Linked DNA regions of Homo sapiens. The protein of the gene in region 3 purifies or fractionates together with the protein of the main gene of each other region. This does not show direct contact. Each region holds a gene or a part of one and is shown on either strand. Other genes may lie near its edges.

Evidence for each region.
Region 1: the proteins of SLC17A3 (region 3) and ESYT1 purify together in Homo sapiens (affinity purification with mass spectrometry; one large-scale study listed by BioGRID and IntAct). This does not show direct contact.
Region 2: the proteins of SLC17A3 (region 3) and VPS13A purify together in Homo sapiens (affinity purification with mass spectrometry; one large-scale study listed by BioGRID and IntAct). This does not show direct contact.
Region 4: the proteins of SLC17A3 (region 3) and FAF2 purify together in Homo sapiens (affinity purification with mass spectrometry; one large-scale study listed by BioGRID and IntAct). This does not show direct contact.
Region 5: the proteins of SLC17A3 (region 3) and CYP20A1 purify together in Homo sapiens (affinity purification with mass spectrometry; one large-scale study listed by BioGRID and IntAct). This does not show direct contact.
Region 6: the proteins of SLC17A3 (region 3) and AMFR purify together in Homo sapiens (affinity purification with mass spectrometry; one large-scale study listed by BioGRID and IntAct). This does not show direct contact.
Region 7: the proteins of SLC17A3 (region 3) and DNAJB4 purify together in Homo sapiens (affinity purification with mass spectrometry; one large-scale study listed by BioGRID and IntAct). This does not show direct contact.

What each region holds. Positions count from the first base shown.
Region 1 is NC_000012.12:56,134,404-56,138,655, reverse strand, and holds part of ESYT1 (extended synaptotagmin-1), read right to left. Parts: coding exon 4,228-4,252; intron 1,913-4,227; coding exon 1,763-1,912; intron 1,439-1,762; coding exon 1,283-1,438; intron 1,158-1,282; coding exon 981-1,157; intron 825-980; coding exon 742-824; intron 631-741; coding exon 582-630; intron 474-581; coding exon 384-473; intron 253-383; coding exon 157-252; intron 1-156. UniProt on the Homo sapiens protein: Binds calcium (via the C2 domains) and translocates to sites of contact between the endoplasmic reticulum and the cell membrane in response to increased cytosolic calcium levels.
Region 2 is NC_000009.12:77,183,589-77,187,840, reverse strand, and holds part of VPS13A (intermembrane lipid transfer protein VPS13A), read right to left. Parts: intron 1-4,252. UniProt on the Homo sapiens protein: Mediates the transfer of lipids between membranes at organelle contact sites. Binds phospholipids. Required for the formation or stabilization of ER-mitochondria contact sites which enable transfer of lipids between the ER and mitochondria.
Region 3 is NC_000006.12:25,871,017-25,875,997, forward strand, and holds the start of SLC17A3 (sodium-dependent phosphate transport protein 4), read right to left. Parts: upstream 3,228-4,981; 5' UTR 3,151-3,227; intron 1-3,150.
Region 4 is NC_000005.10:176,489,438-176,493,689, reverse strand, and holds part of FAF2 (FAS-associated factor 2), read right to left. Parts: intron 1,497-4,252; coding exon 1,358-1,496; intron 1-1,357. UniProt on the Homo sapiens protein: Plays an important role in endoplasmic reticulum-associated degradation (ERAD) that mediates ubiquitin-dependent degradation of misfolded endoplasmic reticulum proteins.
Region 5 is NC_000002.12:203,290,699-203,294,950, reverse strand, and holds part of CYP20A1 (cytochrome P450 20A1), read right to left. Parts: intron 2,690-4,252; coding exon 2,625-2,689; intron 1-2,624.
Region 6 is NC_000016.10:56,408,546-56,412,045, forward strand, and holds part of AMFR (E3 ubiquitin-protein ligase AMFR), read right to left. Parts: intron 1,044-3,500; coding exon 879-1,043; intron 1-878. UniProt on the Homo sapiens protein: E3 ubiquitin-protein ligase that mediates the polyubiquitination of lysine and cysteine residues on target proteins, such as CD3D, CYP3A4, CFTR, INSIG1, SOAT2/ACAT2 and APOB for proteasomal degradation.
Region 7 is NC_000001.11:78,007,939-78,011,438, reverse strand, and holds part of DNAJB4 (dnaJ homolog subfamily B member 4), read right to left. Parts: intron 1-3,500. UniProt on the Homo sapiens protein: Probable chaperone. Stimulates ATP hydrolysis and the folding of unfolded proteins mediated by HSPA1A/B (in vitro).

The DNA.
Region 1 (4,252 bases), on a different chromosome or scaffold from region 3:
ACCCGTGGCCTTGAACAGACAACTTTTCCCACCCCTGCACTACCCTCAGAAAGAGAGGGGCCATTTTTCTTATTCTAAATACTCCAGGACCATCCAAACCGGAGGAAGGTGGAAGAAGGGCCAGGAAGTTATGGGGCATGGGGAGCGGGATCTCACCGGGAGGTCCTCTGCCCGCTCCATATAGATGGATAGCAGGGCCGCAGCCAGCTCCGCACTCTTCTGAGTCTGGATCAAACTATTCACCTGCAGCACCTGTGGAGGGGCACACGGGGCTGGGGAGTGGTAACTGACACCTTGGGTTCTGGCATGTGCCTTGAACGCTAAGAGAAGAGCTCATCCTGCCCCACCTTGGGTCCCTTCCTTCCTCAAGTCTCCTGCCCTACCTCCTCTAACTCAGCAGCAGTGGGACGGGGGGTGAGACGCTCCAGGCGCAAGTGCAGGCGGCCAGATGGGACATCCTCCAGGGTCAGCCACTGTGGAAGTAGGCAGGGTGAAGACTTGGGGATATGCAGACAGGAGAACTTTGAGAATGAAGCTTGGGCAGGATCAGGAGGGGTTGTTGACTCTAATTCAATGCTCACCTCATCAAGGAAGCCACTGTTTAAGACTGTGGTGAGACGCACTTTACACCTGTTGAAGAGAAAGATTAAGACAAAAGCTAGATGGTGAGAACCAAGGAGGCCAGACTCCATGGCCTAAAGAGCCCCAGCCTGTTTTTCACGTAGACTCCTATGCTCTCACCTGCCCAGAAAATCATCCTTGTCCAAGTCCTTGTCAAAGACTTCAACCTCTAGCTCTTGGCCTGGAACTGATGTGACGATCACCTAGTGGGAGAAAATAGTGCAGATGAAAGATTCTCTCCTTTTCCTCTGCAAATGACTGGACCCCCCAGTCAACTGAACCTCAGAGGTTTCTGGACCACTTTTGGGATTGGGGGAAAAATGGGGCAGAACCAGGAGTCACAGCCACTCAATTCTGACCTCAAAAACCTCATTCCAGCGGGGATTGAGATCTTCCCGAACAACATGGCTCCGGAAGCTTCGTCCTGCCAACTTTAGTTTGACATAGGGGTCTGACTTGCCCTTCACCAGTCCCCCCAAGAAACGGTCTTTGGCAATCAGGTCCTGGGCCTCTAATACATGGATCCGAAGCACATGCTGCAAAAGGGACGGGGGGGTGCCAGATGGCAAAGGGAGAGAGACCTGTCAGAATCTGCCCTGAAACAGGCTTTGCATACTTAGCGGGGCAAACAGACCCTAGTCCTTTCCAGATATAGACTCACCTCAGTCCCAAACTGGCTATCAGGAGTCGTGTGACAGGGTCGAGGTGGGGCATCCACACTGCTGCCTCTCTGGGGATTCTCACTGTCCACGTCCCAAGCACCAGGACAACCAGGCACCGTGGGGAAGCATATTTCTGATGAATCCAAGTACAGGATCTAGGAAGGGTAGTATGATGCTGAATCAAAGAAGTGCAGCTCGTCACCAGCAGGCAAAGCATGTGGGGTGGGGTAGAGGAGGGGCTGTGACAGGGGAACTAGGTGCTGCCCTGGCTGGGCTCATCTCTACAGGGTTCCCTCCACACCCCCTCAACTCATAAGCCATTCCTTCCACCAGTCAGATCAATATATGTTTTTGTGCCTGCTTGGCACTTCTACATGTATTAGCTCTTTTAATCTTAGGGGGGTCCCTTTCCTTACTCTTAATACCAAAGAATCAACAGGCCTTTCCCCCACACCTCAGTACCTCCTCTATTTCCATACCCTCATGACTAGTTTCATATAGAGTCTGGAGTTTGGACCAGAGCTGCTGAGCTGGAACCACTGGTCCAGGATGAGTTCTGGGGCAGTCAGCAGGCGGGCCAGAGGCAGCGTCAGTGCTCCTAAAGTCAGGGCCCTGGAATCATCCTTCACCTACAGGCACAGGAGGAAGGACTGTAGTGAAGGGATTAGGGGAAAGGGAGGCATACTGTGAAAATGATAACATGGCTCCAACTTCATTCCTCTCTGTACCAATCACAAACCTCCTGCTCCACTCAGGGCCATCTTTTTTTTTTTTTTTTTTTTGAGACAGAGTCTCACTCTGTCGCCCATGCTGGAGTGCAATGGCGCCATCTTGGCTCACTGCAACTTCGACCTCCTGGGTTCAACCCATTCTCCTACCTCAGCCTCCCAAATAGCTGGGACTACAGGCGCATGCCGTCACGCCCAGCTAAATTTTTGTATTTTTTAGTAGAGACAGGGTTTCATGGTGTTCCCCAGGCTGGTCTCAAACTCCTGAGCTCAGGCAATCCGCCCACCTCGGCCAGAGCCATCTTTTATAGTCCTCTGCCCAATCCATGGCCCCTTCCACCTTTGTTCATTCTGCTCCCACTATTTGGAAAGTCCTCATTCTCTTCCCTCGGCCTATTTAAATCCTACTCATCCTTCAAGACTCAATTAAAATCCAATTTTTTGCTTCACAAAATCTCCCTAGTTACTCCAGCCTATCCCTTTCTCTGACCCTCCTTAGTCCTATACTATGGATATTTTACTCCCACAAATTCATATGTAATTGTTGCTATTCTTCTGTTCCTTTTTTTTTTTTTTTTTTTTTTGGAGACAGAGTCTTGCTCTGTCACCCAGGCTAGAGTGCAGTGCTTGAAATCAGCTCACTACAACTTCTACCTCCCGGGTTCAAATGATTCTTCTGCCTCAGCCTCCCAAGTAGCTGGGATTACTGACACATGCCACCACACCTGGCAAATTTTTGATTTTTTTTTTTTTTTTGAGACGGAGTCTCACTCTGTCACCCAGGCTGGAGTGCAGTGACGCTATCTTGGCTCACTGCAACCTCCGCCTCCCGGACTCAAGCAATTCTACCTCAGCCTCCCAAGTAGCTGGGATTACAGGCACGCACCACCATGCCTGGCTAATTTTTGTATTTTTAGTAGAGATAGGGTTTCACCATGCTGACCAGGCTATTCTCAAACTCCTGACCTCAGGTGATCCACCTGCCTTGGCCTCCCAAAGTGCTAGGATTACAGGTGTGAGCCACCATGCCTGGCCTTAGTTCATATGTACTTGTTCTTGAATGATTTTATATGTGTATGTCTTGTCTATGAAACTGAAACTGGCCAGTGAGTATTGTGAAGGCAGATACTATGTTTTGTGCTTTTTCTATGACCTTTAAAATGCTGAATGTTGGGCCGGGCACGGTGGCTCACGCCTGTAATCCAAGCACTTTGGGAGGCTGAGACGGGCGGATCACCTGAGGTTGGGAGTTCGAGACCAGCCTGACCAACATGGAGAAACCCCGTCTCTACTAAAAATACAAAAAAAATTAGCCAGGCATGGTGGCACATCCCTGTAATCCCAGCTACTCAGGAGGCTGAGGCAGGAGAATCACTTGAACCCAGGAGGTGGAGGTTGCGGTGAGCCGAGACCACGCCATTGCACTCCAGCCTGGGCAACAAAAGCGAAACTGTCTCAAAAAAAAAAAATGCTGAATGTTAGCAATTTTATTGAGGCATAATTTACATACCATAAAATCACTCATTTTAGGTACCGTGCCCAGCCTCAGAATAATTTTTGTATACCTAAAATGAGTGATTCTATGGTATGTAAATTATGCCTCAATAAAATTGTTAACATTCAGCATTTTAAAGGTCATGGAGAAAGCACGAAACATAGCATCTGCTTTCACAATGCTTACTGGCCAGTTTCATAGACAAGACACACATATATAAAATCATTCAAGAACAAGTACCTATGAACTAAGGCCAGGTGCAGTGGCTCATGCCTATAATCCCAGCACTTTGGGAGGCTGAGGCAGGCGGATCATCTGAGGTCAGGAGTTCGAGACCAGCCTGGCCAGCATGGTGAAACCCTGTCTCTACTAAAAATACAAAAATTAGCCGGGCATGGTGGTGCCTGCCTGTAATCCCAGCTACTCGGGAGGCTGAGGCAGGAGAATTGCTTGAACCCAGGTGGTGGAGGTTTCGGTAAGCCGAGATCGCACCACTGCACCCCAGCCTGGGCAACAGAGCGAGACTCCATCTCAAAAAAAAAAAAAAATATTATTCTGGAGCGACAGTTGGGGAACAATGGAGAGATATTCAGGGAGGTGGGGAGTCTAGGTAGATGGATTAAAAATAGGAATCAAGGGAAAAGAAGGAGAGGAGAAATGGTACAGATCTGGGAAGTCAGAATAGGGTATTCGGGAGGGGATGAAGAGGTGATTATCTCACTTGCACATCGAGCTCCTGGCTTTGA
Region 2 (4,252 bases), on a different chromosome or scaffold from region 3:
CTATCTATCGGGTACTATGCTCTCTACCTGGGTGACAAAATAATTTATACATCAAACCCCAGTGACACACAATTAACCCACACAACAAACCCACACATGTACCCCATGAACCTAAAATAAAAGTTAGCAGGGAAAAAAAGGAAGAAAAGGTAACACACAAAATGGGAAATATTTGCAAATCATATATCTGATAAGCAGCTAACATTGTGTGTGTGTGTGTGTGTGTGTGTGTATGTTTGTATGTAAACTCTTACAACTCAAAAAACAAACAACCTGATTAAAAGATGGACAAAGGACTTAAATAGATGTTTCTCCAATTAAGATATACAAATGGTCAATAAGCCCATGAAAAGATGTTCAACATTACTAATTAGAGAAATGTAAATGAAAACTACAAGATACCACCTCATATCCATTAGGATAACTACTATCAAAAAAAGAGAAAATAAATGTTGGTGAGGATGTGGAGAAATGGTGACCTTTGTACACTGTTGGTAGGAATGTAAAATGGTGCAGTCACTATAGAAAGTAGTATGATAATTCCTCAAAAAAATTGATAATGGAATTACTATATGATCCAGTAATTCTGCTTCTGGGTATGTAACCCAAAAATCTGACAGCACAGACTGAACTTCAAAGAAAAATATCCACATTCATAACACCATTATTCACAACAGCCAAAAGGTGGAAGCTGCCCAACTATTCATCAACAGATGAATGGAGAAACAAAATGCAGTATATACATACAATGGGATACTATTTAGCTTGAAAAATTATTGAAATGCTGACATTTCCTACAACACGGATGCACCTTGAGGACATTATGCCAAGTAAAAGAAACCAATAACAAATGGCAAATACTGTATAATTCCACTTATACTTCAAGTATTCGAATTTACAGACATCAAAAGTAGAATAACGGTTACTGGGGTCTGGGAAGACGGTGGAATGGGTAGTCATTGCTTAACGGGTAAGTGGTTCAGTTTTGCAAGATGAAGAATTCAGGAGATGAATAATGGTGAAGTCAGGAGATGAATGGTGGTGATGGTTGCACAATGTAAGTGTACTTAATGACATGAAGTGTACACTTAAAATGGTTAAGATAGGCCGGGTGTGGTGGGTCACACCTGTAATCCCAGCACTTTGGGAGGCCGAGGCGGGCAGATTACTAGGTCAAGAGATCAAGACCATTCTGGTCAACATAGTGAAACCCCATTTCTACTAAAAATACAAAAATTAGCTGGGCATGGTGGCATGCATCTGTAGTCCCAGCTACTTAGGAGGCTGAGGCAGGAGAATCGCTTGAACCCAGGAGGCAGAGGTTGCAGTAAGCAGAGACTGCGCCACTGCACTCCAGGCTGGGCAACACAGCAGGACTCCATCTCAAAAATTAAAAAAAACAAATAAATAAAGGAGTTCTTCAGAAAGAAGGAAAATGATTTAAACCAAAAACTCAGATTCACAGGAGCATTAGAGAATTAAGAGATGAAGGTAAATTAAGTCTTTTCTTCCTTATTCTTAAATTAATAGAAAAATGTCTAAAATACTAATAGCAGCAATGCATTGGATTATTACAGCTTATAGGTAAGTGAAATTAATGACAACAATGTTACAATGGGCAGAAGGGAGGAATCTGTATACTGTATTGTAAGATAGAGTATTACATATACTACCTCCATTTTCCATGAAGTAGTATAGTGGGATTTTTGTTTTTGTGTTTTTTGAGACAGAGTTTCGCACTGTCGCCCAGGCTAGAGTGAAGTGGCACAATCTCGGCTCACTGCCTCCCAGTTCAAGAGATTCTCATACCTCAGCCTCCTGAGTAGCTGAGACTACAGGCGCACATTACCATGCTCAGCAAATTTTTTGTATTTCTAGTAGAGATGGGGTTTCACCATGTTGACCAGGCAGGTCTCGTACTCTTAACCTTAAATGATCCGCCAGCCTCAGTCCCCCAAAATGCTGGAATTACAGGCGTGAGCCACTATACCTGACCTATAATGTTATTTGGACGTGGACTTGGACTAGTTTTAAGTGAACAGCACAAACTGTAATACAACCACTTAAATAAATTGTTTAAGAAGCATAATTGGTATGCTAAGACAGGAGAAAAAAATTAAATCATATCACATGATCAATTAAAACCAGAGAGGGCAAAAGAGGAGGGGAAGACTGTTTAAAAAGGAAACAAGTATAACAAAACAGAAAACAGCTATAAATATGATAAGACACTGTCAAAGGAAAATAAAGGTTTTTCTCTCTACTCTCATATTCGACACAGAACCCTTAGATAACCAGATATGTGAAGTTTTTCCCCCAATCCCTAAACAATTCTCCAACAGACACTAACTATAATTCAATTAAATAATGACACTATCTACCTAGAAAGGGTGTCATATCGAGCCGGGCGCAGTAGCTCACGCCTGTAATCCCAGCACTTTGGGAGGCCAAGGCAGGTGGATCACAAGGTCAAGAGATCAAGACCATCCTGGTCAACATGGTGAAACTCCGTCTCTACTAAAAATACAAAAAGTAGCCTGGTGTGGTGACAGGCGCCTGTAGTCCCAGCTACTCGGGAGGCTGAGGCAGGAGAATCACTTGAACCCGGGAGGCGGAGGTTGCAGTGAGCCAAAATTGCGCCACCGCACTCCAGCCTGGCGACAGAGCGAGACTCTGTCTCAAAAAAAAAAAAAGAGATAATGTCATATCCCACATGGTAAGGGCTCAGTTCCATAAGACTGCCCCTCACTTCAGATGTCAGTCACAAGTCGCAGGCTGTGATCTGTGCTTCTGATTGACCAGCTATAAATCAGGGTTCGCACCTGATTTTATTTGGTTTGATAATTTGCTGGGATAACTCACAAAACTCAGGGAAATACTTATATTTAACAGTTTATCATAAAGGATATTACAAAGGATACAGATAAAGAGATGGACAGAGCAAAGTAAGGTGGTGGGGAGCTTCCATGCCCTCCCTGTTGTGGACTTTGGTATCTGCACAGGTCTTGGAACTAAACCCCTGGAGATACTGAGTGCTAAACATACACGTCATGACCAAATGGGATTTATTCTAGGTATGCAAGGCTAGTTCAACATTCAAAGATCAATTAATGTAATGTATCACACCAACAGATTAAAAAAGAAAAAAATCCTGTGATAATAGTAATAGATGCAGAAAAAAACATTTGACAAAATCCAGCATTCTTTTGTTTTTGTTTTTTTGAGACGGAGTCTTGCTCTGTCACCTAGGCTGGAGTGCAGTAGCACGATCTCGGCTCACTGCAACCTCCGCCTCCCATGTTCAAGCGATTCTCGTGTCTCAGCCTCCCAAGTAGCTGGGACTACAGGTGCCCGCCACCACACCCAGCTAATTTTTGTATTTTTAGTAGAGACAGGGTCTCACCATGTTGGCCAGGCTGGGCTCGAACTCCTGGCCTCAACTGATCTGGCCACCTCAGCTTCCCAAAGTGCTAAAATTACAGGCATGAGCCATCATGCCTGGCTCCAACATTCTTGAAGGAAAAGAAAACACTCTCAGCAAAGCAGAATAGATGTGTATGTATGACAGAAAGAAAAAAATTAGAGTATTTGTTGCCTCTGAAGATGAGGGTAGGAATAAATTAGGAAAGGTCAGGAAAAAGACTTTCTGGGGTGATGGTCATGTTCTATATCTTGACTGGGTTTGAGTTACATGTGTGTATGTATTTGTCAAAACTCAGTCAATGTACACTTAAGATTTGTATATTTTCTTCTACATAAATTTTACCTCAAAAGGAAAAAAACTAAGCAAATATTGCACTCTAATGATACACATGCTGAAGTATTTAGGAGGAAATGAGCTCATCTCTACAACTTATTCTGAAATACATTTAATAATATGAATTGCTGCATGGATAGAGAGATGGACAGATGGACAGGTATGTGACAAAACATGTGTGGTTAAATATTAATGGTATTCCATTATATGGATATGCCAGTTTGTTTATCCATTCACCTGTTGGTGGATACTTGGACTGTTTCCCATTTGGGGCTATTAAAAATAAAGCTGCTATGCACATCTGTGTGCAAATCTTTGTATGAACATATGCTTTCATTTCTCTTGGGTAAACATGTAGAAGCACAATGGCTTGATAACATGGTTGATGTATGTTTAACTTTTTAAGAAATTGCCAAACTGTTTTCCCAAGTTGTTTAACATTTTACATCCCCAGGAGACATATTAACAGAGTTCCAGTTTTTGCACATCCTCACC
Region 3 (4,981 bases):
TTCTCCACTTTTACACTGTTGGTGGGACTGTAAACTAGTTCAACCATTGTGGAAGTCAGTGTGGCGATTCCTCAGGGATCTAGAACTAGAAATACCATTTGACCCAGCCATCCCATTACTGGGGATATACCCAAAGGATTATAAAACATGCTGCTATAAAGACACATGTACACGAATGTTTATTGTGGCACTATTCACAATAGCAAAGACTTGGAACCAACCCAAATGTCCAACAATGACAGACTGGATTAAGAAAATGTGGCACATATACACCATGGAATACTATGCAGCCATAAAAAATGATGAGTTCATGTCCTTTGTAGGGACATGGATGAAGCTGGAAACCATCATTCTCAGCAAAATATCGCAAGGACAAAAAACCAAACACTGCATGTTCTCACTCATAGGTGGGAATTGAACAGTGAGAACACATGGACACAGGAAGGGGAACATCACACACCAGGGCCTGTTGTGGGGTGGGGGCGGGGGAGGGATAGCATTAGGAGATATACCTAATGTTAAATGATGAGTTAATGGGTGCAGCACACCAACATGGCACATGTATACATATGTAACAAACCTGCACATTGTGCACATGTACCCTAAAACTTAAAGTGTAATAAAAAAATTAAAAAATAAAAAAAAGACTCTGGGTTCTCTGAATTATTGATGTTGGAACAAGTTCTTAGTTTCCCCTTCCTTAGATAACTTAGATGAGGGCTACGTGGCATCTGACTGTTGTCTCAATCCAAGAAATTCAATAACTTCTTGATGGGAAGGATGGTTGGCTTTTTGTTTCTAAGGTTAAATGAAGATCCTAAAAAGAGAAATGAAACAACCAAACAGACATATCCAAGTATGGTAAGTTATATCAGAGGGAAAAATTATGTAAATAGATAAAGGCATGGAAGAACCTGAATTAAGGCAGGGAATTAAAACTATTCTCAGAAAGAATAGTGCACAGTAGGGCAATGATGTACTGGAACCAACTCACTTGGGGCCAAAAGAGCTCATTATTAATGTTTTTAGAAATTTTTCAAGCTAGTTGTTGAACATAGCCATTATCCATTAAATGATATGAATTTAGAGTTCAATTAATTATATTTTTAAAAGGTATTATTTTAACTTTATGACTTCATAATTATTTCATGGCATTTTATTGTAAGCTCCACTCTTGAGGTTTTTTACATCTCTTGTATCTATATGGTGGGAATACTGTATAAAGATGTGCTATTGCACATCTCTCCCCAACTCTGAATTCAGTAATGTCATGATGGTAGCTTGGAATTGGCCATAATACGAGCTTTAACGCCAAAAAAAAAAAAAAAAAGGCAAAGGCTACAAATTTGGGCTTAATTTATTGTTTTATGGACTTCTTGGGCTTAAGAAATTTATCAAACAATGTTCATCTAAGTGTGTGTGTCTGTGTGTGTGGGTGTGTTTGTATGTATACACACTACATATCTATATCCACAAAGACACAAAGACACACACTTACATAAACATATAGAAATAGATATGTAGTATGTATACTACATTCATTACTATATATATGTATATTTTATACATATATATATATTTATATATATAATGAATGCTTTTCAGGCATGAAAACCCTGAAACATGAGTCAGACTTCACTTCCCACTGATTTCCTTTGCAATGATGTGACCTCTTCTGCAAAGCATGGGTACTCTTGCTAAGATGACATCCTTCATACCCAGCCCTGCATCTGCATTGCCACTGCCTCTATTCATCAGTATCATCTCCAGTCTCCACAGACAGGTCAACGTCCCCTGATTCCATACCGATCTTCCCATTTGTCTCCTGACTTTTGAAAATATTAATACTTTTTAAAGCTATCTAAGGTTTCACATGACAGTCTACCACCTGCACACAGCTTGTACCAACACCCTATCTCTAAGTGAACCAGGATGTCACATCTTCTCCTGCCAGCAGGTGTGGTCTACCCACCTCACCATGACAGACACCTACTGCCATGGTAACCTCAAAACATTTCACTGACTTAAAAAGCTGGATTCAAGCTCTGCTGACCCTTCCCACACCCTGGGGCTATAACTAGAGGAAAGAGAAGTAATCTAGAGGGAAATCCCAAGGCACCCACAGGTGAGCCAAGAACAGGCTCAAGTAGCACAACATAGAAAATGCACTCTCATTATCTTCTCTTAAATGTGCCCTTCCAATCAGTCTTATAGCCTGTCTACACCTTGGCTTTACTCAAGTAAATCCCTTTTGTTTTAACAGCTCTCTTTATTTTCCACTAAAAAGCTATGCTGGTTATCTGGGTCAGAAACTATATATTGCACTCTGAGAAGTTTCTGGTCCAAAGCAGTGTTCATAGAGAACCACATTGAGGATCAGCTTTCAGTAGAGATGGTTAGTTTAAAGGCAGGGAGTGTTCTAACAGCATCTTCCCACACATCTGTGAAGTTGCAGCTGCCACAAAAAGTTGTACCTTCTCCATTCTGGCCTTGAGGACTCCCTGATTCCCTCCTTCCCACTGCCCTCAGCCCACCTACCATCTTCTGCTGACTCTGGTGACTGTCCCATTGCCTCATCTCTCCATTTCCTCTTCTATCCCTAGCCATTTTAGTTTGGTTAAATTTCACACCAACTCACTGGATCTTGATGCAGCATTTCTCCAGATGCTTTCTTGGACCAGAGCCACCCTAGCCATTGGTATAATAGAAATAATTATTATTGCCACTCTTATAAATTACTGCACCAGCCAGTCTACATCAATCCCAGATGGAGATATTACTGACCCTCTTCCTCCAGGTCACCCAGTTGGTAAATGAAAGAGATGATATTTGTTCAGAAGCCAGTTTGACCTGCAAAATTTTGCTTTTAAACACCTCGCAAGAGTGCCTATTTCTTGGAATTATCTTCCATAGCTGCTACTGTCTCCACTAGCTAGTTTCAAAGCATATGGATGATCAGATACAAAGCTTCAGCTTCCTGCCACTTCTCCCTCACTTTTGTCAGTCTTGTTAATATGGATTTTTACATTTTTCATTTTTATTTTTATCATATGAGGAAACTTGGGGTTGGGGAGTATATAAAAATTGTCCATTGCTATACAGAAAAGAGTTTTGGAGGTCTTCATCTCAATACCAAGAGAAGTGACTTACCGACTTAATGTCTGTGGAAGGGCTTCAAGTTGAACCCAGCGTTTCCTCCAAGCTTACTCCCTTGGACTTTTTGGAGCAGAGAGATGAGGATTCTTTGCCACCCTAGGGCTTAAGTTGCTAATCATTAATAAAAGTCATCAAACTACAAAGTTGACTCAGAAGGGCTTCTTGCCAAATAGGCTTTGAAGAAGCATTCGGAAATCCAGCCCAATCCCCTCTGCAGTTCTTTCTGCTTTTTGGCTGATGTAAGCTTCTCCACCTTCCCCTTGTGAGTGTCTCCTCAGGACCTCATAGGTGTCCTCTGGTTCAGACACTTGCATATAGCTATTTTGCTTTGCTTTGTGGTGTCTTCAATGTCTTTAGTCTTTTTTGAAAAGGTTAAAAAGAGATAAATTATAATTAAAGAGTTCAGTATTTTTGTGTTTTTTACTTTGCTATTTTTGATTTTCCCCCTTAATTGAAATTTTGTTAATTTTTTTCTTCTTTGAAATATGTGAATTGTAATATTATGGGTAAACTTGAACTTCATTCACTCTGTTGCTTTCTCTTTCCCTGGGTCCTTGTCCTTTTCTCAGCAAACCAAACCAAACCAAACCAAACAAGCCTGGCATAAATATAATATGATTTCTCCATTTTTTTCTATTCTTACTATTTATATGAGTATTCACAAACTATATGTAATAATGCTTTGTATTATTTCTAAATTTGCACACATGCTATCATGTAGCATTTATGGGCCATTCTGTAACCACTTTGGAAAATAAGTGGCATAAATTTGGCATACCTACATGTGCACAGTGAAGGCCAAACTCTTTCAGTTTCTTGTGGTTAACTCTTGCGCTAACACCCAGGAAGTCAAAAGCACTGTCACTGCTTTCCAAGAATGTGTATAGTTCTGCTTGTCCTTGTCTCATAGATGAGGCAAAGCCTTCAGACTCCTAGCTTTCTGTAGTTTATTTCCAGCTCTCTGAATGCCTTGGGTTCATAATCCAGACTCCTTTCTTTATATGAGCATTAGAGTCAGCCATGGAAATTTACACCTTGTTCTGTGCTTTAATGGCTTTCCTGGCCTTAGCTCATACTCATCACTTTGACTTTAAATCCCTTCTTACTTTATGGCCCTGAGGAGATCTCCTTTAGATTCTAAGTTTGACTCTTTATACCTATTTGAACTGTATTGTGAGAGGAGAGTGAGTAAACTACCTCTCAACACCCTGGCTGAGAAGTGGGAGCCTGGCAGTATATATCACAGATCAAGAATTCAGAAGGAGGAACCCGGGTCCTGGGGAGTCAGAGCTACCATTTACTGCGCATTTATTACATGTCATCCTCACAATGCTTTCAGGTAAGTTTTATTATATTCTTTATAACATAAAAGAAAAAAAACAGATTTCTTCCATCTGCACTTTAAGAATTTAAGTATGGAAAATTTAAGCCCGTTATCGTGTGGGGGTAGTGTCAATTTCACCTTTCTAGGTAAAAGATTTTTCCCTGAGTCATTTCTGAAGGACTCTGGACCCTGGGATAAATAATGATCAACTTTGGGATTCACATATCACAGGAAATGTTTCTGACCCTGAATTATCCAAGTCAGAAAACGTTACTTGGTTTTGCAATTTAATGTTTAACTTTATTTAAAGTGCTCCTGAGTTCTTTACATGCTACTTGGTTTGACTTGGTAGAAATAGACCCAAATTGTCTCTGTGTAGAAAGAATAACAATTCAGCTTTTCTTCACCTCTATGATTAAACACTTGAATATGAATTGAGATATTTCCTTGACTTAGGTTGTAATATCCATCTCTTTTAAAAAAAGAATTTTACATTTTCCT
Region 4 (4,252 bases), on a different chromosome or scaffold from region 3:
CTGCACCCACAGTCTAAGGAAGATAAAAACAGGAGAATCTGACCATATGAAAGGGAGGTGAGAATTTTTCTACTTCACAGCTACAACATCCTTGTAAGTAAAAAATAACTGCGAAGACAACCCTGATCCCAGGCCACATATCGAGTAGGAATGATGGACTGTACGATCCAAAGGCATTCTAAAGAGCATAGGGTGTAAAAGACTTTCAAAGACAAGGCTAGCGCCGAAGACTCCTGTGCGTGCTCCTGCATGTGCGTGCTCCTGAGCACATTACACTGTACGACTGCTGACATGGTCAAGGGTGGTCTACCCTCAGGATCATAGCAGAGAGGGTACACAGGAGGTGCTCATCTCACTCATCTCTGTATCTCTAGCACTGAGGACATTGCCTGGCATACAGTAGGTGCTCAGTTTTTGTTGAGTGTGGTGGGAACAGCCAGCGAGGAGACTGACTATGATAAAAAGCAGATGTGGGAAAATGAAAGCAGGAAGCAAGGGTGAGCATTTTTCTTTCTCCAGATAGATTCAGGAATTCTGGAGGCTGCATAATAGAACCCCCTTTTGCCTATTGCCACAGCATTCCCATAGTTTTCCCTATTCCTGTAGTGTTAATTCTATGTATTTCTCTGGCAAACTAGAGATATACCAAACACCCACAGAACTCTAATTTTTCCTCCCCTGAATGGTGAGGTCTTGAGTCAAAGGTCTACATGGCTGAGGTTGAATGAGATGTGCTACCCTGAGTCTATGGTCTATGTCCTTATTCAATTCTGTGAGAGATCAAAGAAGATGTAGGCTTTGCCTTCAAGGGGCTTTCAGTCTGGTAGCAGAGATTAGACACGAACACAAATGATATAGGAAAGAATATAAAATTGCTATCAATTTTTAAAAGCTATGGAAGAACAAAGGGAAAGATTAGTATTCTAGATGATGAGATAGGGCAGGACAGGGCACAACAATCAGGGATAGCTGTAAGTGGGGCGTGACATAATCTAGTTGAAGGACTGGCAAGATTCCAATTAGCAAAAATGTGAGGAAGGCATTCCACGTGGATGGACCGGCAAAAGCAAAGGCACAGAGGTAGGCAAGTACAGACTATGTTCAGGGAATGAGTCAGCTGGAACTGAGGGTATGGTAAAATAAGTTATGCAGAAAAGACCTCAAAAGAAGGGCAGCATTAGATCAAAGAGGGGCCAGCTAAAAGGTTTGGTCTTTTTTATTACCCACCCCTATAAGCAGTGAAGAGCTAATTAAGGTTTTTGAGTACAAGAAGGACATGATCAGTGCTGGGCTGTGCTCTCCTTTGAGGATAGAATCATTTCGGTAAGTTGGCATCTATATGGTTTATGGCACTGACCTGGCTGTACGTTCCCTGGTAGAAGACAGGGTGTGCCCTCCCATATTTCTCTTCAAAAGAGTGCATAAATGAAACAATGTCCCCAACGGGGTCAGTGACCCGGCTGCGAGGGTCAGGCCGTATAAAACGAAGAGCAAACCTGGGGAGGAAGGAATAAATATCACATGAATCCAGCTTACTACAGTGCATATCGAGTGGGCCAATTTGTACAGATTCCTGTAACAGAGCCAGAGGCACGGCAACAAAGGGAGGTGAACAGTCTGTGAGTGGACCATCAAATCCGAGAGTAGAGTCTGGTTCAAAAGCCATAAAGCAGCAAGTGTTATTCTATTGCCTGTTCAGGAAGAATGCAAACTACTGGGATTATAAATTCCAACACTGGCCTACATAAATCCTGAGTATTTTTTGTAGAACAATTTAGGGCTAGAAGGGTTTGGAAGGGAAGACACAGTATCCAAAAAGATCATGTGTCAGGCTATGCACCCAGACTCTCTAGAATGGCACCGTCTAAGTACTGTAGCCACTAGTCAAATGTGGCTATTCTGAATTTAAATCTATTACATACAATTAAAATTCAGTTCCTTAGTAATGCTAGCCACATTTCAAGTGCTCAACAGCCACGTGTTTAATGGCTTTCATACTGAACAGCGGAGATACAGAACGTTTCTATCATCACAGAGAGTTCTACTGGACAGTGCTCTAGAACAGAGGTCATTTTCTGGTTGTCCTACTTGCCCCTCCTTCTCCTTTCTGTTTTCCTGGGATTTTAAATATTGAGTTCACAACCCCAAACTATTCAACTTACGGATAGGAACTTCAAATCTGAAGTTGCGGTTATGACTTACTTGCTCTTCAAAGGGGCAAGTACCTTTTGCTTGATGATTTATGGTTGATGGCAACCATGGAGGAAGTTATAAAACTGCTCCACAGTACCCTGGCAGATGTGGAGTACTGGCAGCTCTTGTAAAGTGAAGAATACATACCTAATGGTACCACACATCTGTTTCTAAAGGGCCTACCCTATTTGTATAGTACCATTTATTTATCCTTTGGGTTTCCAGAGAAGGCAACAGGACAGAGGATAATGTGTTACCTAACATTAAACAAGCTGGTTGGATGATACAGCTGCATTAAAATTAGTAATACATGCCGTGCATATTTTCCCTAGAAAAGCAAACAATATTCATTTACTTAAAACGTTTTCAGCACAGACAAGGTGATTAAACTGTGATACTTTTCCTTAACAAAAAGTGAGTCAATTCATTATCCCAACAAATTCCCCCTGTGTATACAATTCTACTTGGAATTTCTCCCGAGTAATCAAACCAAATTCATTGACAACAACGTTCCAGAGCGAATTAAAAGCACAAAATGTAGTAAGTTGTATACGTGGGGGAATGGTTAGAAATTCATCAGAAGACTGATGTTTTAACTACTTTCTTTGAAATTAAGCATTTTAGAATTCTCTCTTAAAGCCTTTATTTTTTTTTCCTCATTACACAATATTCCCACGATCTACACAATTTAGGACAATCAGCTTTTTTGATTTTTTAGAAAAAAACAGAGATGTCAACTTAGTTTTCATTATGATTTTAAAGATTTTTACATGTTCATTCTTAAATAAAATGGGGATGGAAAGAGTACTAAGCAATTAGTGATCATGAAGAATGTTGCTAAACCAAGAAAGCCATTAAGTAGACAGCCTCATAAAACACCAAGGGTCCAATATAAAAGGTACTATCTGACCCTTGTACTTATGCAGCTGCTGGACCCACAACTTCAGCCTCTGCTCCCTAGAGGCAGGGTAAAGGCTGTCCCATATTTGAAGGGAAGTACAGGGAACCTGTACTTCCAGGGAAGGCCCAGACTACATATCCCAGCTCCATCTGCTGGCCTGGATGCCCTTGAACATTTAAGTTCCCCATAAAGCCTAGACATGGCTCTGGACCAGATAACCCAAGCCTGACATGCTAAGAAGTTGTGCCCCACTCATTTTCTTTTCTTTTTCTTTTTTTTTTTTTTGAGACGGAGTCCCACTCTCTCACCCAGGCTGGAGTGCAGTGGTGCGATCTAGGCTCACTGCAAGCTCCGCCTCCCGGGTTCACGCCATTCTCCTGCCTCAGCCTCCTGAGTAGTTGGGACTACAGGCACCAGCCACCGCGCCCGGCTAATTTTTTGTATTTTTAGTAGAGACAGGGTTTCACCGTATTAGCCAGGATGGTCTTGATCTCCTGACGTTGTGATCCGCCCACCTCAGCCTCCCAAAGTGCTGGGATTACAGGCGTGAGCCACAGAGCCCGGCCAGTTGAGCCCCACTCATTTTCTGGCCTTGGACCCTCTGTAGCTTCCAATGATGAGCTCTTTTAATGGTACATGAAGGAAGCTAGAAGAAAGGTGAAGGTATGAAGCAAGTGGGTATATACATAAAAGGGTTCCAGTGTTTGCAACCTAGGGGCTGCCAGAGCAAAGTGAAAAGGTACCGAAGCTGCCAGGCATGGTGGCTCATGCCAGCAATCCCAGCACTTCGGGAGGCCAAGGCAGGTGGATCACTTGAGGCCGGGAGCTCAAGATCAGCCTGGCCAACAAAATGAGACTCCATCTCTACTGTCTCTACTAAAAATACAAAAATTAGCCAGGCGTGGTGGCGCATGCTTGTAATCCCAGCTATCTGGGAGGCTGAGGTATGAGAATCGCTTGAACCCAGGAGGTGAAGGTTGCAGTGAGTCGAGATGGTGGCACTGCACTCTAGCCTGGGTGACAGCGACAGAGCAAGACTCTGTTTCAAAAAAAGAAAGAAAAAGAAAGAAAAGGTGTAACAGGAGTGTCTAGGGAGGTCCAACTATTGTGGGAGGAATCAAGGGCAAACTGGGTAATCTCAGAGCAAGAGAATTTGTT
Region 5 (4,252 bases), on a different chromosome or scaffold from region 3:
AAAAAAAAATTTTTTTAAAGGCTGGGCACAGTGGCTCAAGGCTGTAATCCCAGCACTTTGGGAAGCAGAGGCAGGTGATCACGAGGTCAAAAGATTGAGACCATCCTGGGCAACATGGTGAAACCCCGTCTCTACTAAAAACATAAAAATTAGCTGGGCGTGGTGGTGCATGCCTGTAGTCTCAGCTACTTGGGAGGCTGAGGCAGGAGAATCGCTTGAACCCGGGAGGCGGAGGTTGCAGTGAGCCAAGATTGCACCACTGCACTCCAGCCTGGCAACAGATTGAGACTCCGTCCAAAAAAAAAAGATACACGTTGCTTCTCTTAAGCCACTGAATTCTAGGAGGGTATCTGGATTAAAGCGAATGAAAAGCGTACTCTATATATGTGTGATTATTATCATTATTTTTTATTTTATTTTTTATTTTTTTGAGATGGAGTTTCATTCTTGTTGCCCAGGCTGGGGTGCAATGACATGACCTCGGCTCACTGCAACCTCCACCTCTCCTGCCTCAGCCTCCCGAGTAGCTGGGATTACAGGCATGCGCCACCACACCTGGCTAATTTTGCATTTTTAGTAGAGAAGGGGTTTCTCCATGTTGGTCAGGCTGGTCTCAAACCCCCGACCTCAGGTGATCTGCCCGCCTCGGCCTCCCAAAGTGCTGGGATTACAGGTTATTGTGCCCAGCCCATTATTTTTCATAGTTGGCGTCTTGCTTATTCCAAGACCAGCCTGGCAATAGAGCGAGATTCTGTCTCGAAAAAAATAAAAATAAAAATAAATTAAAAATTAAAAAAAATTAGCCAGGCATGGTAGCGTATACCTATAGTTCCAGTTACTCTGGAGGGTGAGGTAGGAGCATTACTTGAGCCCAGGAGGTTGAGGCTGCAGTGAGCCTGTGTTTACATCACTGCACTCCAGCCTGGGTGACAGAGCATGACCCTGTCTCTGTCCCTAAAGAAACAATAAAAATAAAAAATAAAGTCAGGGAAATGAAGGGCCTAAGAAACATTTTTTGTTCTATAGAATTTCACTCTGTAAAGTCATTGAAGAAATGCATATATTAAAAACAAAACAAATAACCCACGTACCACAGAACAAAAAAATTCCTTGCAAAAACAAGTATTTTTAAACGACTTAAACTCTGAATTTTTAAAAAAGGGAAATTCTTGGGAGCTAAGGTATGAGGACGTAAAGACATAAGAATGATACAATGGACTTTAGGGACTTGGGGGAAACGGTGGGGCGATGAGGGATAGAAGACTACACATTGGGTACAGTGTACACTGCTTGGGTGACGGTTGCACCAAAATCTCAGAAATCACCACCAAAGAAATACCACCTGTTCCCCAAAAACCTATTGAAATAAAAAATAAATTTAAAAAAAGCAAAAAGAGAAGCAATAAAGAACAGAAAAATGCACTGGGGAAAAAAAAAAAAAAGAGGCCGGGCGCAGTGGCTGTAATCCTGCACTTTGGGAGGCTGAGGCGGGTGGATCATGAGGTCAGGAGATCGAGACCATCCTGGCTAACATGGTGAAACCCTGTCTCTACTAAAACTACACAAAATTAGCTGGGCGTGGTGGCGGGTGCCTGTAGTCCCAGCTACTGAGGCGGCTGAGGCAGGAGAATTATTTGAACCTGGGAGGCGGAGCTTGCAGTGACACTAGATCATACCACTGCACTCCAGCCTGGGCGACAGAGCGAGACTCCATCTCAAAAAAAAAAAAAAAAAGAGAGAGAAATTCTGCTTTTTTAAAAATTTTTTTTGAGACGGAGTCTTGTGTCTTGCTCTTGTTGCCCAGGCTGGAGTGCAATGGCATGATCTTGGCTCACTGCAACCTCTGCCTCCCAGGTTCAAGTGATTCTCCTGCCTCAGCCTCCCGAGTAGCTGGCATTACAGGCATGCGCCACCATGCCCAGCTAATTTTTGTATTTTTATTAGAGACAGGGTTTCGCTATGTTAGCCAGGCTGGTCTTGAACTCATGACCTTGTGATCCGCCCGCCTCAGCCTCCCAAAGTGCTGGGATTACAGGCATGAGCCACGGTGCCCGGCCTGCTTTAATTTTCTTAAAACAGATGTTAATTACTTTTCACTTAGTATAAAAGTGGTAATAAAAGAGACAAAGAGTAGCAAATAGCAGATTCACATAAGAGAAAAAGCAGTCAACAGAAGATATAATGGGGATGCAGGTCAGGCTTGGTGGTTCATGCCTGTAATCCCACCACTTTGGGAGGCAGAGGTGGGAGGATGGCTTGAGCTCAGGAGTTCAAGACCAGCCTGGGCAACATGGTGAAACCCCATCTGTACAAAAAGTACAAAAATGAACCAGGCGTGGCAGCACGCGCCTGTGGTCCTAGCTACTTAGGTGGCTGACGCAGAAGGATGGCTTGAGTCAGAGAGGTCGAAGCTGCAGTGAGAAGTGATTGCACTATTACATTCCAGCCTGGATGACAGAGTGAGACCCTGTCTCAAAAGAAAGAGAAGAAAAGGGGATTCACTAGTTTTCTTTTGTTGTATCATTGCTACATATTGAGTTTTCTACTCAACAGTTAGGAAAGGAATGCAAAACGTGCAAACACAAAAACTGACAGTCACAAATACAATGACAAATATTTCATACTTGTGTGGAGATGGCCAAGTATTAGGATCCTGAAGTACCACACCAAGGGCATAAAGGACGAGGGTCTGTGAAAAAAAAAAATCCAATTAGTCAAGGACTAACAGAGATAAAATGACTCCTAGAAAGTCAACTTATTCCAAACTTCTTTTAATATAGATATTGAATACAAAATAATAATTTAAAAATAATGCAAGAAACCACAAGTGATTATTTTGGTGATCTTACAATGAGGAAGGCCTCCCTAAGCATGTCACAAAATCTAGAAACCATAAAGGAATAACAGACTTAACTACATGAAAATTTAAAATCTGCATCCAGAGTTCATGTCCTTTGTAGGGACATGGATGAAGCTGGAAACCATCATTCTCAGCAAACTATCGCAAGGACAAAAAACCAAACACCGCATGTTCTCACTCATAGGTGGGAAGTGAACAATGAGAACACATGGACACAAGAAGGGGAACATCACACACCGGGGCCTGTTGTGGCGTGGAGGGAGCGGGGAGGGATAGCATTAGGAGATATACCTAATGTTAAATGTCGAGTTAATGGGTGCAGCACACCAACATGGCACATGTATACATATGTAACAAACCTGCACGTTGTACACATGTACCCTAAAACTTAAAGTATAAAAAAAAAATCTGCATCCAGTTAAAAAACAATAACAAAAAAAAATGTAAGCAACAGTAAAAGTTATTTGCTATATAATTGACAGAATTTGTATAATATACAAATATATATAAGCTCACTAGAAAAATGAGTGAAAGTTATAAAGACAGAATTAACAAAAGAAAAACACAAACTGTTAATATATGTATGAAAATTTGTTCTATCTCTCCAATGATCAGAGAAAAGCAAGATTCATAAAATATACATAAGACTCAAATTCAGAGGCAGTGAGGATTTGGAAAGAAAAAACATTCTCATACATTGTTGCTAGAAGTATAAAATGCCTTTTAGAGAACATTTTAAATTTAACGTACACATGGCCCAGTGCAGTGGCTAATGCCTATAATCTCACCACTTTGGGAGGCTGAGGTAGGAGGATCACTTGAGCCCAGGAGTTCCATATCAGCCTGGACAACATAGTGAGACTCTGTCTTTATAAAAAATAAAAAAATTTAGTCCAGCTACTTGGGAAGCTGAGGTGGCAGGATCACTTAAGCCTGGGAGGTCGAGGCTGCAATCACACCACTGCACTCCAGCCTAGGTAACAGAGCAAGACCCTGTCTAAAAATAATAATAACTGAACATATACATGGACTTTGACACAAAAACTCCGTGTCTCAGACTCTACTCAACACCTGTACCAGTATATAATTAAAAAAAATAATGTCAATCATAATTTCCACTAGCGGGGGCTGCTTAAATAAATTATGCTAGATGGGCATGGTGGCTCATGCCTGTAATCCCAGCATGTTGAGAGGTGGAGGCAGGTGGATCACTTGAGGCCAAGAGTTCGAGACCAGCCTGGCCAACATGGTGAAACCCCATCTCTACTAAAAATATAAAAATCAGCCAGGCCTTGTGGCACAAGCCTGTAATCCCAGCTACTCAGGAGGCTGAGGCAGGAGAATCACTTGAACTCGGGAGGCGGAGGTTGCAGTGAGCCAAGATTGCACAAC
Region 6 (3,500 bases), on a different chromosome or scaffold from region 3:
AAATGCAATCCAGGCACAGGTTTACCACTACTACAACGTGATGTCAGCATTATGCAAGGAGAGGCAACAGTCTGAAAAGAAGGCCTAGAGCTGCAACTCCTGAGGTCACAGGCGGAGATTAAAAAAAACAGTTTGGGAGGTTAGAAGCTCCTGTTTGTGACTTCAAATGAGGGTTGAATGTGAAAGAAATAAAGGCTGTGAGAGTGAGATTAACTCAAACCAAGGTGCAAGGTCCATGTGGACTGGGTAAAGACAGGGAAAAACAAGGCCCTGGAGCGGGTTTAACTGAGGGGCAGCACTGTAGATGCACATTTATCTGGGACTCATGAGACTACTTCAGGTCACTAATGGGTTGAAGGTTCACTCATACAGCTATGATCTGAAACCAAGTGACAGATCTTGTACCAGACATAAAATGATTCACTTCGCAAACAAGGAAGCTGAGGGAGCTAATTCAGTCCTGGCCCGGGGTGGAAATAGTATAAACTACTCAGAAAGAAGAGCTCCACGAACCAGAGTAAGCTGGGAGAGACAGAAGGAGACTAGAACAGAAAATATCTAGAAAAGACCAGATTTTATTGTTTATGTATCAAGGTTTCCTTGCACTGTGAACAAAACAGTCTGCATAGGTGAAGTGACCCCATGTTAGCAGTAAGTAAACACTATGGGGTTGGGAAGAAAGCTCCCCAGGAGACAACGATTCTGCATCTCTTGGCTGCTGTAGAAAGTTCTTCAAGAAACAGGCAATGGGGGCCTGATCTAGAAGTCTTCCCAGAAGAGCTACCCTGACCATGCCTGCTGTGGCTCATTCACATTACACAATTCAAAGTTGGCAAACGTGGTGACTAAGCAAGCAAAAAGCTTGGCTAAAAACTCACATATTCAAATCGATCCTTGCAGAGCTGAACCATCAGGTGCAGAAAGACAAGTCCGGCAAACCAGAGGCACCACATGACCACCTCTTCCACTGTCTGGACATTCAGCACACCAAAGATGAAAATGAACTTGTAGAAAATAAAATTCCAAAATTTGTCTTTGAGATGCTAAAAAAGAAAAATGTTTATGAAGGTGAGTACCATCACACCTACCCCATTTGAGGGAAGTTACCATAACAAAAGCCGGCTTCTATGGAAGATATATTCTGCACTTGGCTTTCTAATACTTGTCCTCAAGAAAACAGAAAAAAAAAAAAAAAAAAAAAAAGCAGCCATCTGAAGAATGGAGGTAAGACACCCAGAAACTAATCTGTAAACTTTGGACTATAACCCTAAATCAATTATGGAATGTTAGCTATTCAAAGGATAGCGATATTAGTTTAGTAACTTATATATTAAGAAATAGGCCAGGCGCAGTGGCTCATATCTGTAACCCCAGCACTTTTGGAGGCTGAGGTGGGTAGACAGCTTGAGCTCAAGAGTTTGAGATGAGCCTCGGTAACATGGGGAAACCCCATCTCTACCAAAAAAAAAAATACAAAAATTAGCTGGGAATGGTGGTGCACACCTGTAGTCCCACCTACTCAGGAGGCTAAGGTGGGAGGATTGCTTGAGCCCAGGAGGTCAAGGCTACAGTGAGCCATCATCATGCCACTGCACTCCAGCCTGGGTGACAGAGCAAGACCTTCTCTCAAAAAAAAGAAAAAAATGCTTACATTTTTAATGCACAATGAAAAAGAATGGCAAGGGCTATCATTTTTACTACTTCTACCTTCCAGATTCTTACACAATAGAAAAGATTAGACTTTGTAAAAAAAATTCTTCAAATTAAAAAATAACACAACACAACCACTTGCCAGCCCATAATAAAGGCGGCATAAAAAGTACAAAGAAAATGAAAAATGCTGCCTTAACATTTTTATGAATTTTCTTGTCTTTTCCCTATGTACAAAACACATTACTTTTTGTACAATGCTTTCTTTCACCTATTGTATTGTTAGAACCTTAACAATGTCAATGAATATTCTCTGAATATACCAATATACCGTTTCAATGGCTAAAGATGGACACTGAAACTGTTTTAAAATTTTCACCACGCAAAAAAAACATTATAATGAGGGCCGGGCGTGGTGGCTCATGCACGAAATCCCAGCATTTTGGGTGGCCAGGGCAGGCGGATCACTTGAGCCCAGGAGTTCGAGACCAGCCTGGGTAACATGGCAAAATCCTGTCTCTACTAAAAATACAAAAATTAGCTGAGCATGGTGGCACAAGCCTGTAATCCCAGCTACTTGGGAGGCTGAGGCATTAGAATTGCTTGAACCTGGGAGGTCGAGGTTGCAGGGAGCCATGATCATGCCACTGCACTCCAGCCTGGGCAACAGAGCAAGACTCTGTCTCAAAAAAAAAAAAAAATTGTGATGAATATTTTTGTATGTATCTTTGTATGAGTTACTTCAGCACTGTCAAATCAAAAATTGCAAAGATTTTTATGGTTTATAGTAAAATCTACCTAACTTCCAAAGCAGTCCTGTAAGTGTACATTCCCATGGGCAGTGTGTATGCATATTTGCTTCACTGTACTCTTTTACACAGAGGGCTTCCAGTTTTAACAATCTTCACTAACCCTGAAATAGGAGAGCAATAAGGAGGGTCTAGTTCCCCCACATGTTAAAATAGACTATCAAGCCGTCTAGGGGGGTCAGGGAGAACTGACTGAAGAGGATAAGAATGGAAGCATGATTCTAAGTATACTTTTTTTTTTTTTTTTAAAGAGACAGAGTCTCACTCTGTCATCCTGGCTGGAGTGCAGTGGCCCAGTAGTAGCTCACTGCAGCCCCAAACTCCTGCGCTCAAGCGATCCTCCCACCTCAGCCTTCTGAGTAGCTGGGATTACAGGCACATGACATCATGCCCGGCTAATGTTTTTTATATTTATATTTTGCAGAGATGGGGCCTCCCTCTGTTGCTAAGGCTGGTCGCAAACTCCTGGGCTCAAGTGATCCCACCTTGGTCTCCCAAAAGAATGCTTTTATATGTAATTTGGAACCATGTAAATGTTTCACAAATTCAAAAAATAAACACAAAAAAGCAAAATATACTACAAATTAACAACGTGACTCCTTAAAGATTTTGAGAACTTAAACACACTGTACTCTGACCAGATATCTTTTGTAGAGAACAAAATAAAGTGGAAAAAAATCATAGAGTATGCCCTAATTCTATCCATCAAAAGGGCAGAGACACCCTAGTGGTAATGAGCACACTCAGCCAGTATACAGCTTGGCTTCTAAATATCATTGCCCAATAACGTGAACTAGGAATCGTTGGTGAAATGTCTGTTTCCAGACCTGGTGCAGGGAAAGTACAAGGTGAACTTAGGACATTTTGTGCCCTGGTTTTGAATGACACTGCCACTTGGCTCTGCCATTTAGTTTCTGTGTGACCTTGGGAAAGTCACTTAACATCCCTGTGCTTTAGTTTCCTCATCCATACAATAGGTCTTATAATAACAGCATATACCTCATAGAATTGTTGGGGGAATTATACATAATATATGTGAAA
Region 7 (3,500 bases), on a different chromosome or scaffold from region 3:
TGAGGACATTCTATGAAAAATGGTTTTTTAGACACTACGATTGTCATTCCTACTCTAGATACCAAATTTTTTAGGCATATCACATCTTAGCATTAATTTCAATGCTTGTAAGAAGACTGAAATCAAGAGCTGTAAACTTTGACACGTAAGGCCTCTATATGGGTTATTTCTGTCTCTTGTGAACAGTCCACCTCAGGCAACAATATAGTGACTTTTTGACCCTTTGCTTAAGGGTTCCACTAAGTAATATTTAACCCACAAAAGATTATATTTGAAACAACATTTTCCACTATGAAAGAAATGTTCTACTAAAACTCAAAAAACAACAGTATGGTGATCTTTTAAGGGGTCAATACAGATCAAGAAACAAGCAGGAAAAGAATCTAAAAATCATAAAACTATGAAAAATCCAACAGATTAAGCTAGGAGATTCTAATATCTCCAAACAGTGAGTGATTTGAAGGCAGGAAATATATTTATTTTGCACTGCTCATGCATACAGGGCTGAAAATGGTAGGTATTCATGCTTAGTGAATGAAGGGAATGAACTAATTCCTAAAGTCCTTCTAAATCAAAACTAAAAAAGGTGTCTTGAGTATCGGTACAGAGAAAAAGGCAGAAGCAAAAACAATGTAAAATATAATCACACATATACATATATGAGAGATTTAACAATTTAAAATGCCACTAACACACAGCATACTTTAAAGAAACTTAGTTTTGCTTACGTCTTATTCTGCATTTGGCTTCTTCCATTAAAAGGTATATATCTACTCTATTTCATCTAACAGGGTCTCAAGTGATATCTAAAATTTTTACCTTCATCCATGAATAGAAATCTGGAGAGATCAAGAGAGACCTAATAATCTGAAAATTGCCAAAATATGTATTGAACAATATATCCAAATAGCAGTTAGGGAAATTCCTTGTAGAATGACAAGTATAAGCAGGACAAGATCTTTTCATAAGCAGCTCATCCAAATTTCCCTTTTATAAATTTTAGTAGTATAATTATAACTCCAAATGTTAAAAAGGTAATGGCAGATTTTTTTTTTAATGATAGAATAATATGTAGCTCAAGGTCATGACCAAAGTGACTCAACCAATGCTTAAATTATTTAAATAATTTTATCCTTCATCCCATAGACTTAAGGGAGTATAATTATTTAACTGAGTTAAGTAAACTGGGTAAATCAGCCTGCCCAATCTAGCCTCTTATAAGACAAAATTTAAATACTTGCACCCATAATGAATTCATGAAAAGAAAGAATAATGTTTTAATTTATTACATCATGGGTTTGGCTTTCTGGAAAACCTCTTCCTCCTCTGCCAAAAAGGGCAATTCGGTCATAATTACAAAGTCTCTGAGAAGATTCATACAAAGTCTGAAGTAACTTACCAAAGCTGATAAAAAGACTCCAATGCAGCTTTGAGGTTTTCCTAGACACTATTAAACAGTCAACTATGCAGCTCAGACAAAGAACGAAGCTACTCTAATGAATGAAAAAAATCCTAGGCTGGGCACAGTGGCTCACACCTATAATCCCAGAACTTTGGGAGGCCAAGGTGGGTGGAGCATGAGGTCTGGAGTTCGAGATCAGCCTGACCAACATGGTGAAACCTCGTCTCTACTAAAAATACAAAAATTAGCCAGGCGTGGTGGCGCACGCCTGTAATCCCAGCTACTCAGGAGACTGATTCTGTCTCAAAAACAACAAAAAAAAGAAAAAAATCCTACCAAAATTCATGCCACTTTAATATACATTATTATGCAAGTATCACTTGCATTGTCTAGCACATAAAATTATAAGTAATGTCACATTAACTATATGGTCAGTTCTTAATCATGTACATTTTGAACGCTAATGGAAATGTTTAATATCCAATTGGATTCCCTCTGCTATTCAAAATGTTTTCTAGACATCGTCATCACTTTGTGTGATCAAAAAACGCACCAGAGAAGCAACATTTGCCTATGATTTAGCAAGACTGCTATTATTTTACAACTAACCAGTCAACCAGTTTGCAGTCCCAAACCAAATATGTGTTTGGAATACTATCTATAACAATGATTCCCACTAATTAGTTAAGGTTGACTAAAAGTTTCCAAAAGAAGAAACACTGGAGAAAAATTCAGATTGCAAAGAAAAAAACATGATAATACTTTAATAACTCTTACTCCATCCAAGGAGATCTAATATGTAAAAATCCAGATTTACAGCAAGACTTCAGTTATCAAATAATGAGATTCTGAGATTTTTTAAACAGTTTTAATTCACAAAAATCAAATTTACTTACATGTTTTTAGAACACACAGTGAATTAAAAAAAATCCAGCTAGCTAAATATATAAGTTAAAGAACAGAAGAGAACTAGTATAAAGATTAATAAATACAAGTTTTATCATTTAAACACTACCTTTTAATATTTGAAGTTACTGAATAAATCATATGCAATAACAAAATAAGGAAAGCATAAAAAAAGAAAAATTAGAAAACTAGAATAAATGAGGATGTGTTATTGAAAATCTTTTCTTTTAAATCTCTTAACACAAATTTTTGTTGACATCCACTAAACTATTCAAGACTAAACCTAAAACTTTAGAGAGTGGTTCAGAATCCAATTTTAAATTTCTGTAGTTCTGTGGTTTTTGTTTTCAAATGATTCAACTATAGAGAAATTTTATTTTTAAAAAGATTTATTACATATATAAAATTAACCTATTGTACAAATACAATTCAATTGATTATAGTAAATTGATAGAGCTGTATAACCATCATCACAATCCAGTTATAGAACATTTCCATCATTCCAAAGAATTCTCTAGTTCTTATTTGTAGCTAATCCCCGCTCCCACCTCAAGTCCTAGGCAAGAAAGATCTGCTTTCTTTTTCTATATACTGGCCTTTTCCAGACATTTCACATAAATAAAATCATACAATATATAGTCTTTTACATCTGGCTTCTTTAATTTAGCATAGTTTCTGAGGTTCATCAATGGTGTAGCATGTTTCACAAATTGGTCCTTTTATTGCTAAATAGTTCCTCATTGAATGTATATAGCACATTTTGTTTAATTCACCAATTTATGGTGCTTTCAGATTGTTTCCAGTTTGGGGCTATTATAAATAATGCTGCTATAAGCATTCAGGTACATGTCTTTGTGTGGACATGTTTTTGTTTCCCTTTTATAGATTCCTAAAAGTAAATTTGAGTTATCCGTATTTTTTTTCTTTCCTTTGCTTTTTCTAGAGGTAGGGTCTTGCTATGTTGCAAAGGCTGGACTCAAACTCTTGGGCTCAAGCAATCCTTCAGCCTCAGCCTCCCTATTAGCTGAGACTACAGGCATATGCCACCTCACCCAGCTAGCCAACTGTTTTTAAAACAAAGCATTTTAAATTGTGAATATTCAGAACACAAATATACTGTGTTCTGGATTACTGGTTCTTTCACTCCTAAATACATAAATTTAGCATATGCAACTTACATACTTTTCAGTTT